Homo sapiens: one gene and its partner. The protein of the gene in region 1 purifies or fractionates together with the protein of each later gene. This does not show direct contact. Each region holds a gene or a part of one and is shown on either strand. Other genes may lie near its edges.

Region 1 (5,365 bases):
CCAGGCGCAGTGGCTCACGCCTGTAATCCCAGCACAGCACTTTGGGAGGCCAAGGTGGGTGGATCACCTGAGGTCAGGAGTTTCAGACCAGCCTGGCCAACATGGCGAAACCCCATCTCTACTAAAAATAACAAAAATTAGCTGGGCGTGGTGGTAAGCACCTGTAATCCCAGCGACTCGGGAGGCTGTGGCGGGAGAATCACTTGAACCCAAGAGGTGGAGGTTGCAGTGAGCCAAGATCGTGCCATTGCACTCCAGCCTGGACAACAAGAGTGAAACTCTGTCTCAAATAAATAAATAAATACCATCAATATTTTTTAATTTACCCCCCTTTTCAGCATTTTAAAATTTTATTATTTTTTCTAACATGTTATCTTATTCTGGGGTTATTTCTATATGCCTTAAGTAAATCTTATAAGATTTTCTGTGCTAATAGTGTGCTGACAGTAAGTACTTTTAGTTATTATTCAAAAATGTCTCTTATTTTATGACCATCTTTCTTGTAATGGTTTTCCTGGGTATATAATACTATACTGACAGTAGAGTTTTTCTAACTCATTTTGAAGGTGTTATTCCACTATCTTATTTCTTTGTGGTTTTGATTAGTTACCGGTAAACAGAAGTTTGCTGTTAAGTCAACTCTCTCAAATAAACATAAAAATGAAAAGAATTGACTTATAGTGACTATAGGGCTTGACAATTTTCATGGTTGTATTTAGGCTAGCAATGATGAGTAGATATGTGAAAAAATATAATTTTTTAGATGAATGGTTTTATTTCGTTCAGGCTGAAATTTATAATATAATAATTTCTTTTTTTTAATTTGTTACACCATTTCCTTCCAGCTGCATTACCTCTCATTCCATTCTTCTTCAAGTTGCATAAACTATGTAGTGCCTTTACTTTTGTACTTTTCTCCAAATGCTTATAATTAAATAAAATCACATTTATTAATATATGTATTAACTTAATGAGAAGAAATATTTCTGTATGCATAATTTATTCAATGATTATTTTATTGATAACTATTGTTTCTAGTGTTTTATCCATAACAAAATGATGCTATATAGAGCCTTGAAATTAAAAATGATAAAAAAATAATTTAGAAATACTGATTCTTAATGCTGCAACTGGGAACAAGGACCCTGAGCTTAGAGAGCCTTAGAAAATGGTGATTTCTATGCCCAATTTTTTCTCCATTCTAATTAGCATTTTTGATCTCATAACAGCACAGCAAGAACCCTATTGCACTAACTAAATGACAAACCAGGAAAAAGGACTTGAACTCTAAGACTAGTGGAGGATTTCCAGTTCTGCTTCATTTCCTTCCTTTGCCCACACTTTTCTTCGTGATTTAGTCTCCTGGGAACTGGGTCTATTAGAACCACCTAAGATAATAATTTAATTTAAAGATTCTTGAGATTCTACCAAATCAAGTTCCTAGATATGAGCCCCAGGCACCGTTTGCTACAAATCCTCTATATGAACATAACCTCAACATATAACCCAAGATCTTCTTAGGAGAAAAAAACTTAACAGGCCCATAGGAAAGAAGAGAGTAATAGAGCAACCTAAAGATTCATGACATGACTCATATATTATGGTGCTACTAAGAATAAACTGAAACTTGAAATGGCAAAACTTTTATTGAACATCATGCTGAAGCCCAGAAGAAAATGCCATCTCCCACTGGTACTCCTGTAATCTGACACTTCAAGATGTCTCCTCTGCTCAAGGATCTTTAAAAGCACCTTCTTTGAACCACAGATGTCCCATACTCCTTGAAGTCTGCCGAGGTGACCCACATCTGCTTGAAACTGCTCATAGAGGTCATGATGGATGCACCAATCCATGCAGAGAAGCATCTATCAGGAGAAGCTGTGATCTTGATGGGAGTACCTTTGGAAGCCAGCTGTTCCACTTCCTTCATGAGCCTTTCCTCCAGCCCAGGGAGGAGAGTGGTGCCCCCGGAGAGTACAATGTCTGCATAAAGTTTATTCTGGATGTCAGTGTCACACTTCATGATGCTGCTGGAGACCATTTTTGAGAGTCCTGGGCTGTGGATGCCCAGCTGGTCAGGTGCAAAAAGAACCTCGGGCACTTGGTACAGCTCATCCCCAAAGTGGATGACATGTCCATCTGGCAGTCTGTATGCTCCCAGGACCTCTCCCCGGCTCTTGCGTAGCTCTTTCTCTGGCTCCAAGGCGATGTAGCACAACTTCTCTTTGATGTTATTTACCACGGCCTTGTTGAGTATGCAAGGGAAGTTAAACCCGCTAGCAAAGAGGAGCCGGGTGAGGTGCTCTGTGATGTCCCTCCCTGCCATACAGAGTTTGGTGACTGCGTGAGGCAGGGAGTAACCCTCAAAGATGGGGACAGTGCAAGTGACCCCATCTCCACTGTCCACCACCAGGCCTGTGACACAGGCAGAGGCATAGAGCGCTGCCACCGCATGATTAGACAGGTAGAAACCAGGCACACTGAAGGTCTCAAACATCATTTCTGCTAGCTTTTCTCGAATTTCCCTAGGATTCAAAGAGGGCTCGGTCATAAGTACAGGCTGTTGGCTGGGTTTTACTCCAAGCTCCCGCTCAAAGAGATGTTTCCAGAGTTTCTCCATGTCATCCCATCCTGTTACCAGTCCACGCTCAATGGGGTAGTGCAAATGTAGGGCCTCATACTTGTACAGGGCTTCTTGCCCCACGAAGTACTTCTGATTAAGTCTTGCTAAAGGCACATTGAATTTACAATGTCCCAAGACGGAGCTGATGACATGGCGGGGTCCAATCTCTCCAGACAGGCCTGCTTTGCAGAGTCCTGAACCATTGTCAAAAATTACAGCAGGAACATCTAATGCATGTGGATTAAACATGTCTGTAATATGTTCTCCTGGACTTCCCCCAAATAAAGAAAGAACACTTACGTCACTCTCTGAGATGACAGGCACCTTTAGAATTTTTTAAACTTCAGGGTTCTGAAGTTTCAAGTTGTCACCCATGTACAGCTAGTAGGCTACCTTCAGTCCACCAGGACACCCCATCCTCAACCTCTGAATCTTATCTCCATTCTGTAGGCTCAGGGCCTGCTGAGGCAACATGAGGGGTGATTGCCCTCTATGTCACAATCCAGCCAAGGCAACAATTGTCCTCAGTGAGCATCAGAGGGGCCGGGTGGGGCCTCTGAGCCAATAGTACTCCCTACTTGGTCAGATACAAAGCCAAGGAAAGCAAATCATACCTACAGAGCTATGAGAAACACTATTCTACATGCTTTTGCTTGGAATTATGTTTTCATTTTTTTAGATATATATTTGAGAATAGAATTGCTGAGTTATATGACAACTGTATGTTAAATCATTTGATTTTAATTTCTGTAAGTTCTTTGTTCCAAAGTGGCTGTGACATTTTGCATTCCCACAGTCGCTGTAGGAATGCTCCTACTTCTCCACATGCTTCTAAATTCTATTTTCTGACTTTATGATTCTAGGCATTCTAGTGTGTGTGAAATGTTATCTTATTGTGGTTTTGATTTGCAGCTTTAAGTATCAATGTTGAGAATCTTTATTATGTGCTTATTGGCCATTCTAATACCTTCTTGGGAGAAATGTCTATGCAGACCCTTTGTTCCTTTTTTATAAGGTTGTTTTTTGATTATTCCATTGTAACTGTTCTTTACACATTCAAGAGTCTGGTGTTTATCAGATACATTATGTGCATACATGTTCTTTTATTCTTGTATTGTCTTTTCACTTTTTTGTTAGTGTTCTTGAAATTACAAAACTTTTAAATTTTAAAGGAGTCCAGTTTCTCTGTTATCATTTGTTGTTCATATTTTGTGTCATATGTAAGCATTCATTATAAAATTTAAGATTCTTAAATTTATCTTTTTGTTTTCTTGTAAGAATTTTAAACTTTTAACTATTACATTTAGTTTTTGTTAATTTTGAGTTCATTTTTTATTTATGGTGTGCATTAAGTTTTCAACTTCATTCTTTTGAATATGGTTCTATCTGGCTGTTCCAGCACCATTTGCTGAAGAGGATAATTTTGCCCCATAGAATGACTAGTATCTTTTTCAAGCAACAATTGACCATAGACAGACACCTGGGTTTATTTCTGGACTCACTGCCCTATTCCATTGATCTATATGTCTATCATCATGCTGGTAGCACACTGCATTGATTTCTGTCACTCTGTAATAAATTCTGTAGTTAAGAAGTTTGAGTACTTCTTTGTTCTTCCTTTTCAAGATTGTTTTGGCCATTTTGGGTCCCTTGCAATTCAGTATGCAATTTAGGATCAACTTTCCAATTCCTACGCAAATGTCATATGGAATTTTGATAGAGATTGCCTTGAATCATTAGATCAATTTAAGGAATATTACCATCTTAATAACGTCAACTCTTCCAACCCATGAACATGTGATTTTATTTTGCCATTCACTTGCATATTATTTTAGTTTCTTCATGGAATATTGTCATTTTTGGAGTAAAACTTTTATACCAGTTTTGTCAAATTTTTATTTCCAAGTATTTTATTTTTCTTTTATAACTGGAGTTTTTTTTGTTTTGTTTTGTTTTTGTTTGTTTTTTGTTTGTTTTGTTTTGTTTTTTGTGATGGAGTTTCACTCTTGTTGCCCAGGCTGGAGTGCAATGGCTCTATCTTGGCTCACCACAACCTCCGCCTACTGGGTTCAAGCAATTCTCCTGCCTCAGCCTCCTGAGTAGCTGGGATAACAGGCATGTGCCACCACACCCAGCTAATTTTGTATTTTTAGTAGAGACGGGGTTTCCCATGTTGGTCAGGCTGGTGTTGAACTCCCGACCTCAGGTGATCCACCTGCCTAATTTTATCTTTGATTCAGAGGGGTACATGTGCTTATTTGTTACATAGGTATTACATGTATAATGGTGGGAGTTGGGATTCTAGAGTACCCATTAACCAAATATTGGACACTGTATTCAATAGGTTATATTTTATCTTTCACTCTTCTCCCACTGTCATCCCTTTGGAGTCCCCAGAATATATTTTGCCCATCATTATGTCCATGTGTATCATTTGTTTAGCTTCTACTTATAAGTGAGAGCATCTGTATTTGATATTCTGCTTCTTTGTTAGTTTACTTAGAATAATGGCCTTCAGCTCCATCCATGTTACTGCAAGAGACATGACTTCATTCTACTGTATGGCTGCATATTATTCCATTGTGTATATATACCACATTTTCTTTATCCAACCAACTGTTTGTAGACTCTTAGGTTGGTTCCATCACTTTGCTATGGTAAATAGTGCAGTGATAAACATACAAGTGCAGATGTCTTTTTTATATAATGAATTCTTTTCCTTTGCTTAGATACCCAGTTGCG
Region 2 (3,270 bases), on another chromosome or scaffold:
GACAGGTAAAGAATCTGCCCTCATCTTTGCACTTGGCTTTCTAGGCCCATCCTCTTGGAGCTGTAGTGGGGATCTGGGGACACAGGAAGAGGGAAATGGCCGAGTGCACGGTAAGTGCACCCTTTATGGCGATGAGAACCTGCCACAGAACAGAATGCTGTTGGCTCTGTTGTGCCTGATGAAGAAAAGGAAAGGGTGGTCAGCACAGAACCTGGGGCCAGATTCCATGCAGCACTCTGCAACTACAAAGCAGCTCGACGCTGCCGCTGCCTCGGTGCCTTCTTCATTCACCTCCACAAAACTCTTGTGCACGAACTTGGACAGACACAGGTCTCTCTCCGCTGACATTGCCGACAAGTCAGCCTTGCCCTGTTGGAAGGCATCAACAATTCCCAAATGCCGAAGCACAGATTCCATGTCATAATCCTCTTGTAGTTTAAATTTTGGAAGGAGAACTTCAACCTCAGTACTCTTCATACAGTCTGGCTTGGTCCAGGCTGTGAGTTTCTCAAAAGTGAGACTTTTTTCCACCTGAAAGACCAGAATTAGACTTTAAGATTCCGACTTCAGTGCACATGTACAAGCGCACAGGCACTCACAGTTCCCTTCCTCCCCTTGCACGTAGGTGTTGTTTGTTCACATAGGATCAGTGGCCCCTTCATCTGCCAGAAGCTTGTGAGCACTCTTACTTGTCCTATGTCCCATGTGCCACTTCCTTGACAAGGGGGAGAGACACCAAGCAGTCAGAGGCAGGAAGGCTGTGGCTGTCCTCTCCTTATCCAACAACTCCAGAGACATCTTGTATTGTGACAAGTGTCAATGCCCAGGCGACTGTGTTTTTTTTTCAAACATAGTCTTTTTAAAGACAACAAACCATTGCTAGTAAAGAAAAGGATTGGAAACGAAAGGGCTCTCAGTGTGAGCCACTCCAACAGGATTATCTGTCCCAGGTGAGATTCTGCATAGTTTCCGGAGCAGAGAGGTTACCAGAGGATTATCTGCCCCAGAGAGATTCTGCATAGTTTCCGGAGCATAGTTTCAGGAAGGTGGGCAGAGGGAGAGCCAATGGCTGCTGCGCACACAGACCTCTTAAGTCATGGGGTCCCACTGCCTGCCATTTGCCATGGTTGACTCTCTCACCCTGGAGATCCATGCTGAAAGGAAGCCGAGTGCCTGGATGTGCCCTCAGAGGCTGCCTCTGGTCCCACCCTCTGAGAACTGGACTTCACACCTCCCTGGATGCCCCCTCCCAGCCTTGTTAGGTCAAAGTTAAGACTTCCTCATTCTCTATTTCAGGTTCCTAGACTTTAAAAGCATAATGCTAAGAATGATGATTGTAATAATGGATCACATTTGTAGAGCATTTACTAGTTGCCAGGCAATGTGGTAAGCTTGTTACCTGAATTACCCACATTTTATCCTCATCATAACTCTAGGAGGCAATAACCCCGAGCAGTCATTTATGCTTTTAGAGTTAAAAGTCTGCCATTCATCAAACTAGCAGGATTTTTATAAGCTTCCTCCTACCTGATTTATTTTAAAAGGCATTTTAACCGCCGCCCACTCCTTCTAGCGATGAAAAAACAGAGGACTGAGATGTGTAGTTTGGCAGATCACGCAGACAATATTGGGAAAAGTCAGCCTTGAACAAAAGTTCGATCCCAACGCCAAGTGCCTGCACAGTGTGCGTCTGCCGCATCGCCAACTCAGAAGGTGAATATGAGAGGTGGAAGTGGCACTCGAGTTCTGCCCGCAAAGGTGTCCCTGGGTTCTTCCCGCAGCCCGGGTCTTACCGTGCTGAGCTCCACGCCGTCGTCAGGCAGCAGCACCAGCAGGCTCAGCTCCTTCCTGGCGTAGGGCAGCTCCAGCAGCTGCGCGCGCACCTCGCCCACGTGGGCGAGCTTAAACGTGGCCTCCTGATACATCATCTGCACTGGCCTTTGCTCCTCCTGGGGGAAGGATTATTGAAAGACGCAATTAAAACTTTCAAAAGAGCTGCAGTTGCCTCCAAGAGTGTTTTCAGCACCTGTGATGGAAACCGCCACATTCATGCCCCAGTTAACACTAAAAAAAAAAAAAAAAAAAAAAAAAAAAAAAGTCAACCAGTTCCTTCCTATCTTCATTGCAAGCAGACACAGTACCACCCTGGGAAAGGTTTTCTTCTGCAAAATAAAATGTGATACCCTACATTTTCCAGAGGAGAAAGATGTTTCTCATTTAAATTGTGCTCAGCAAATAGATCTAAGAAAGCAATATAATCAAATGAAATTAAATACAAATTTGTTTTGATTTAATTAGAAAAAAATGTGTATTGTTTTTCCTATTTATCCAACCCAACATATGAGAAAAAAAATCATAAAGTGGGATGAAACTTATAGTTCCACAACAGCATGACAGGGAGTATAAATGGATACACTCTCTCAGAAAGAGTAACGACCTACATATGTAGTAATGTATTTTAACCCAATCTTTTCAATTCTGATACTCTAATGAAATAACTTTTTTAAAATACAGAAGAGGCATAAGCACATAGAAGCTCAGCAAAGTATTACATTTATTAACGTAATACTTTAAAAAATTGATACAGATCATTTATTATAAAAATTAAAATAGTTCTAAAACCAGGGTTAGAATTCTCCTCCTCCCACCCTTTGCAACTAGAGAACTAATTTTTTTAAGTTAAAGTACACCTTACAAAAAATGCAGGAGGGTTACCTGCTTTTGTTTTTTAATTACATTAAAATAGTATCTTTTTAGGGGCTGGAAGATTTGGCAAATTATTCTAATGCCTGCCTTAATTAAGTTTTACTTCAATGTCAAAACTAAGGTCTTTGTCATGAAGTTTTAATATTAAAAAGCTGTAAATACTGAATTAATGATAATTAGTTAACAATTCAAATCAAAACTTACTTTAATTTTAAAAATAACTAATTAAAGACACATGTTTTCACCTTCTCTCCCTCTACCCTGCCCTATACTGCCTCTCACTCCCACATATCACACTACCTTAACACTTTTTTTTTTTTTTTTTTGCTTTCTAGCCAAGTAAATTGGGCTTATAGGAAGATCTTTAGTTTCCAAAACTAGGTGGCAGCAATGGTTTATGAGAAATTATCAAAGGCAGTTAAGAGCAGTGATAAAACACTACATATATATATATATATTATATATACGTATATATAATATATATATGCAGCAAATATCTTTTACTCCTTCCGTTTTTTTCTACTGAGTTAAGAAATTCATTCAGAAATACTTTAAGTTTCAAAT

The links.
Region 2: the proteins of ACTRT1 (region 1) and SERPINB9 purify together in Homo sapiens (affinity purification with mass spectrometry; one large-scale study listed by BioGRID and IntAct). This does not show direct contact.

What each region holds. Positions count from the first base shown.
Region 1 is NC_000023.11:128,049,335-128,054,699, forward strand, and holds ACTRT1 (actin-related protein T1), read right to left. Parts: upstream 3,070-5,365; 5' UTR 2,873-3,069; coding exon 1,742-2,872; 3' UTR 1,628-1,741; downstream 1-1,627. UniProt on the Homo sapiens protein: Negatively regulates the Hedgehog (SHH) signaling. Binds to the promoter of the SHH signaling mediator, GLI1, and inhibits its expression.
Region 2 is NC_000006.12:2,890,040-2,893,309, forward strand, and holds part of SERPINB9 (serpin B9), read right to left. Parts: intron 1,950-3,270; coding exon 1,794-1,949; intron 532-1,793; coding exon 124-531; 3' UTR 1-123. UniProt on the Homo sapiens protein: Granzyme B inhibitor.